2 linked regions of the Homo sapiens genome follow. The protein of the gene in region 1 binds, or shares a complex with, the protein of each later gene. Each region holds a gene or a part of one and is shown in the gene's direction. Other genes may lie near its edges.

Region 1 (2,743 bases):
GAGCTCCAGTTCTTTATAACAAAACAGGGATCTGTTTGAACACTTACTGTTGTTTTTTTTTTTTTACATGTTTCCATCATTTCTGTCTTTAAGAACTAATTCGTACATAATAAGTTTCATAGGTAACACATTATTTGAAGTTACAGCTACAGTAGTCAGGTGTAGAAAATCTTGAGTTGCTTTGGTCTGCTTGTCTTCATAAATTTATTCTCTTATGATACTTGAGGTACCAGTTGTATTTAATTTTATTCATTATCCCTAGATAGCTATTAAGATACTTAGATTAGACCTAACCCACCATAGTCAATCCAAGACTAGACTACTCAATATTAAAGGGTCTGGAAAATAGAAGAGTGTGTTGGGCAGGTAGTTTGTACCATTTATGAAGGTTTGTTCCTTTGTTAAATTTAGCAGCCTGTACTAGCTTTTGAAATCCAGAAGTTTTAACTTCCAGTGGCTGGTTTCTGAGAGAGTGCCATGATTGCTAGCCAGCATTCCATATTGGGAATATGTAGAGGAGAACCTGGATGTACTTAAGAGTGGCATATAATTTTCACTTCTGTCTGTTGAGGCATCAAAAAAACAAGTTTAGAAAGCTGGCAACATGAAGAATGCATTCAAAATATAACAGGTGCTTCTTTGTTGTACGCAGAGGAATTTTTTCTTTTGATTTTGTTTACTGAAATTTGTTATACTTCAAAAGCCATAACTTGAAAAATACTGGTGGCGTCGATGGTGAGTGATTTTTATCCCACGTGGGCCTTTTGCTCAGTTCCATGGCAATTTTGTAAATTGACCCTAGCCAGAGAATAGATCAGTATTTCACTGATACCACGAGGAAAAGAACAAACAAAACTTAAAAGTATTCATACACCTTGCTAACCTAAAAGACAGCAGGGACAAGATACATATGAGGACAAGGTATACACCCAGTTCTGAATAACTTGAAGAACAGGCTTGGCAAAGAAGTAAGTTTATCCAAATCTTGAATTTCTGCCAGGCATGGTAGCTCATGCCTGTAACCCTGGCACTTAAGGGGCCAAGGCAGGAGGATCACTTGAGGCCAGTGAGCTGTGATCACTCCAGTGCACTCGAGCCTGGGTGACAGGGCAAGACCCTGTCTCAAAAAAAAAAAAAAAAACCAAAAATCTTGAATCTCCCATCAAAGCCTTTTCATTAAAAATACAATTTCATCTACTCCCTACTGTACCTTTCACTGATGTCAAGTGGCTATCAATTCATATAGCTGAAAATTAGTGATAGTTTGGGTCTCATTTATGCATAAATTAATTGAAAATCAGTAATGGCCAGGAAGAAATATGAATATTCAAACCACTTTTTTCTTTTTTTTTTTTTTTTTTTGGCAAATGGTGTTATATTGCCTGGGCAGGTCTCGAAATCCTGGGCTCAAGCTATCCTCCTGCCTCTGCCTCTGTAAGAGTGTGAGCCACCATGCCCCACCCAAACCATTTTTCATATCAGTTATAGCAAAACAAGACAAACCAGTTCTTAATAATGTTCAAAGTTGGACCCATAGAGACATGCTAAGCACTACATCATGCTAAGAAGAACAGTTATTACTCAGCTGCCATACTTCAGCCATTCTACTTTTACACCAAGAACAAAATGGCTAGAGATTTTTTTAAAAATACAAATGCCAGTACCTTGCCGAGACTTGTTCACTGATTTGCCCCAACCCCAAGGTAATGGTCATCTACTTTGCAACCTATGGAGATCCTGATAGCTCCCATACAAAGTGAGGTACACTGTTGCCAATTTGGAGGCAGGAAGCCATCAAACTAAACGTAGTTTAATTCAGATGAACACCTATCGATATTCAAAAGGCAAAACAAAAAAACTAATTCCAGGGACATTAGACCTTGGTGAAATGCCAAATGGAAAATGGTGCTTTAAAAGGTAGTCTCTTACCATATAAGGAATAAGTAAAACATTAGCTTGTGATTTCTCATTATTCAGGTCAATGTTTTAGACACGACTAACAAGGGACAGTTCAAACTATTAAAGAGAACAAATTTTTACTTAAGCACTTTGAGGTATCCACTCCCCTTAAATGTAAGTTATGTATTTTATCTGTTGATTAAGGGGAGGTCCAAGCATTTGTACTTGGCAGGAATGCTGGCAATAGCTTGTGCCAGATTACTGTATAAACTTGAAAGTAATAAAAATGTTCTTTAAAAGTATTGTATGATACAGACTTTTCACTACAGATTAACCTTCCAACTGGTGAAGTTTCTTGGTACCTATTTGTCTCAGCTTATATTCATTTTAAAACCAAAATTTAATGCCTTGATATAAATCTTCCCCATTTACATCTTTTTCTGTCCTTTAGAGCGCTCTTACTCTGCATTGCTAAATGCCCATTTTTCATAGAAAAGCTATGTAATGTATTTTTCGTATACGTGATTATGTTCTCCGACAGAGTCCATGACTTCTGTAATGTATAATATTTATGCAGGCTTGTTTTCTAAAGCAAAACAATATTCTCAATGTACAAAGTTTGGCCACCATCCCCACTTTAAGATGAACTATGTCTTAATGACAGAGATACTTGAAACGTTGCTCGAAAACTATAAACTTTGTATGGGATTCTAATAGCTAGAAACAAATTGTCAGCTTTTACTAATTCCAAAGAAGTTAAGAGAGAACCTCATAAGAAGAGAGTTTTATTCAACATTATGGCATGGCCAGTGTAATTGTTCCAACAAAGGGAACCTACTTTGGT
Region 2 (3,541 bases), on another chromosome or scaffold:
GGTTTGGCCATTCTGACTTGTGCCATCTCTGAGCCCTCTATAGGCTTGTCATCATACACATATTCAAGCACCTGGCATGATCATCAGAGGGATAAAAGTGTCCATTTCTTGTTCACTAAGGATTTTACTCCATTTAGGCCAAGTCAGAACTTCGAGCAGCCATTGATCGGTATGTGCAAGAGAAGATTGTGCTAGCAGCTCAGGCAATTTCACGCTTTGCTTACCAGAAGATCAGTAATGGAGATGTGATCCTGGTATATGGATGGTATGGTCCAGACCTTGTGACTGAGCAGATTGGGAGTTGGAATGATCTGAAGAAGGGACTACCCACTTGCCTTTGGGAATAAGTTAGTCATCAGTTACTGACATTTATAACTGAATCCTCCTCTTCATTCACTCTAGCTCATCTCTGGTATCACGAATTCTTCAGGAGGCTTGGACAGAGGGCCGGCGGTTTCGGGTGGTAGTGGTGGACAGCCGGCCATGGCTGGAAGGAAGGCACACACTACGTTCTCTAGTCCATGCTGGTGTCCCAGCCTCCTACCTGCTGATTCCTGCAGCCTCCTATGTGCTCCCAGAGGTAAGTACAGAGGAAAAGGACTCCAAAGTTGGCGGTGAAAAGGTGTAGTAGTATAGACATAATCTCACCTTCCCAAAGTTACAGTTTTGTTTTTGTTTTGAGATAAGGATGGAGTGCAGCGACGTGATCACAGCTCACTGCAGTCTTGACCTCCTGGGCTCAGGTGATCTTCCCACCTCCGCCTCTGAGTAGCTGGGACTACTGGTGTGTGCCACCATGCCCAGCTAGTTTTTTATTTTTCTTGTAGAGATGGGATATCGCTACATTGCCCAGGCTGGAACTCCTGGGCTCAAGCAGTTCCCCCTGTCTCGGCCTCCCAAAGTACTGGGATCATAGGCATGAGCCACTGTGCCCAGCCACAATTATTTAAAAATATTAGAATTATATAGCCCTGGCTTGGTGCCATGGCTCAATGCCTGCAATCTCAGCACTAAGGCAGGAGGATCACTTGAGCCCAGGAGTTCAAGACCAGCCTGCTCAACATAATGAGACCCTGTACACACACACACACACACACACACACACACACACACACACACACACCCCACCCCACCCCCACCCCGGGCATGGTGGCATGCGCATGTAGTTCCAGCTACTTAGGCTGAGGTGAGAGGACTGCTTGAGTGCGTGCGCGCGCGCACGCACACACACACACACACACACAGCTACTTAGGAGGCTGAGGTGAGAGGACTGCTTGAACACACACACACACACACACACCCGGGCATGGTGGCATGCGCATGTAGTTCCAGCTACTTAGGAGGCTGAGGTGAGAGGACTGCTTGAGCCCAGGAGGTTGAGGCTACAGTGAGCTGTCATTGCACCACTGCACTCCAGCCTGGGTGACAGAATGAAACCCTGTGTCAAAAAAAATAATTATATAGCTCTGTTTCTATTTAATTGGAAAAACACTGACAGTATATTACAGCAGTCTAGCTATTGCAAAAACATTACATTAAACTAGCAACCAGGAAGAGGGAACAAGACAAAAGTAACTTCAAAGTTTACTTTTCCTGTGGGAGATTTGGTGGGTCAGTGGTCAGGTGTTTTCACAGAAGAAAAGCCATCATTAAGATTTATTAGGCCGGGCACAGTGGCTCAAGCCTGTAATTCCAGCACTTTGGGAGGCCGAGGAGGGCAGTTCACGAGGTCAGGAGTTCACAATCATCCTGGCTAACACAGTGAAACCCCGTCTCTACTAAAAATACAAAAAATTAGCCGGGCGTGGTGGTGGGCGCCTGTAGTCCCAGCTAATCTGGAGGCTGAGTCAGGAGAATGGCGTGAACCCAGGAGGCAGAGCTTGCAGTGAGCCGAGATCATGCCACTGCACTCCAGCCTGGGCGACAGAGCGAGACTCCATCTCAAAAAAAAAAAAAAAAAGGATTTATTAATTGCCGGACTCAGTGGCTCACGCCTGTTATCCTGGCACTTTGGGTGGCTGAGGCGGGCAGATCACCTGAGGTTGGGAGTTCGAGACCAGCCTGACCAACGTGGAGAAACCCCGTCTCTACTAAAAATATAAAAATACAACAAATCAGCTGGGAGTGGTGGTGCATGCCTGTAATCCCAGCTACTCGGGAGGCTGAGGCAGGAGAATCACTTGAACCCAGGAGGCAGAGGTTGTGGTGAGCCGAGATCGCGCCATTGCACTCCAGCCTGGGCAACAAGAGCAGAACTTCATCTCAAAGAAAAAAAAAAAAAAGATTTATTACTTGTTGTCTGTTTTTGTTTCTTTCCCTTCTTTTCACAGGTGTTGAGATTTATTACTTGTCTTAATGTTGCTGTCCTGTAAGTAGGGGACCTTATTTTGCATTGATACAACAATGACATTTTTTTCTTCCTCTTCTCCTGTGAAACAGGTTTCCAAGGTGCTATTGGGAGCTCATGCACTCTTGGCCAACGGGTCTGTGATGTCACGGGTAGGGACAGCACAGTTAGCCCTGGTGGCTCGAGCCCATAATGTACCAGTGCTGGTTTGCTGTGAAACATACAAGTTCTGTGAGCGTGTGCAGACTGATGCCTTTGTCTCTAATGAGCTAGGTAAGGAGGCAAAAGAGAAGCCTCCAGCTACCTGTGAAGACTTGAGAGGGAGGGAGAGGGGCGGATAAACTAGAACTTCTTTTCTGAAAGAACATAATGGGTACGCCTTCCATTGCAGATGACCCTGATGATCTGCAATGTAAGCGGGGAGAACATGTTGCGCTGGCTAACTGGCAGAACCACGCATCCCTACGGTTGTTGAATCTAGTCTATGATGTGACTCCCCCAGAGCTTGTGGATCTGGTGATCACGGAGCTGGGGATGATCCCTTGCAGTTCTGTACCTGTTGTTCTACGAGTCAAGAGCAGTGACCAGTGACGGGGGAAACACAGGGTTAATAAATGCCATACTCCCTACCCTCAGCAACTCTGCTGCCTTTGTTTCTCTTTTAGCATCTCCACCACTTAAGTTAGGAGTCCAGACTTCACAACCCCTTTTATCACCTGCTACTCAGACCTTTGTGAAGACCTGCTCAAGTAACTAGCTCCATGCCAGTACATTGGGACTAACCTGAAGACCCGTATAAAGAACCAAAACTACCCAAATCAATCATTCACTGAGCATCTACATGCCAGACACTAAACTGGGTGTGAGGAGGAATATGAAAACAAATAGTCCTGGGCTGAGTGCAGTGACTCATTCCTGTAATCTCAGCATTTTGGGAGGCTAAGGCAGGAGGATTGTTTGAGCCCAGAGGTTTGAGACCAGCCTGGGCAACATGGCAATCCGGTCTCTACAAAAAATAAAAATTAGCTGGGCATGGTTGTGCTCATCTGTTGTTCCAGCTACTCAGGAGGCTGAAGCCAGAGGATTGCTTGAGTCCAGGAGGTAGAGGCTGCAGTAAGCCATGATTGTGCCGCTGCACTCCAGCCTGGGTGACAGAGTGAGACCCTGTCTCAAAAAGAGAGTCCTAACCTTAT

What was found. Proteins that work in one complex are often made in the same cells at the same time.
Region 2: the proteins of EIF2S1 (region 1) and EIF2B4 are in contact, whole or in part, in a cryo-EM structure (PDB 6O81), measured with the Homo sapiens proteins. Residues at the interface, in NP_004085.1 of Homo sapiens: Met30, Tyr33, Met45, Arg55, Arg57, Arg75, Glu79, Lys80, Tyr82; in NP_001029288.1 of Homo sapiens: Asn245, Glu246, Glu247, Arg250, Thr285, Ser520 (codon at 2,925), Ser521 (codon at 2,928), Asp522 (codon at 2,931).

The regions. Positions count from the first base shown.
Region 1 is NC_000014.9:67,384,316-67,387,058, forward strand, and holds the end of EIF2S1 (eukaryotic translation initiation factor 2 subunit 1), read left to right. Parts: 3' UTR 1-2,201; downstream 2,202-2,743. UniProt on the Homo sapiens protein: Member of the eIF2 complex that functions in the early steps of protein synthesis by forming a ternary complex with GTP and initiator tRNA. This complex binds to a 40S ribosomal subunit, followed by mRNA binding to form a 43S pre-initiation complex (43S PIC).
Region 2 is NC_000002.12:27,363,798-27,367,338, reverse strand, and holds the end of EIF2B4 (translation initiation factor eIF2B subunit delta), read left to right. Parts: intron 1-137; coding exon 138-265; intron 266-402; coding exon 403-580; intron 581-1,454; exon of another isoform or gene 1,455-2,262; intron 2,263-2,440; coding exon 2,441-2,621; intron 2,622-2,739; coding exon 2,740-2,939; 3' UTR 2,940-2,987; downstream 2,988-3,541. UniProt on the Homo sapiens protein: Acts as a component of the translation initiation factor 2B (eIF2B) complex, which catalyzes the exchange of GDP for GTP on eukaryotic initiation factor 2 (eIF2) gamma subunit.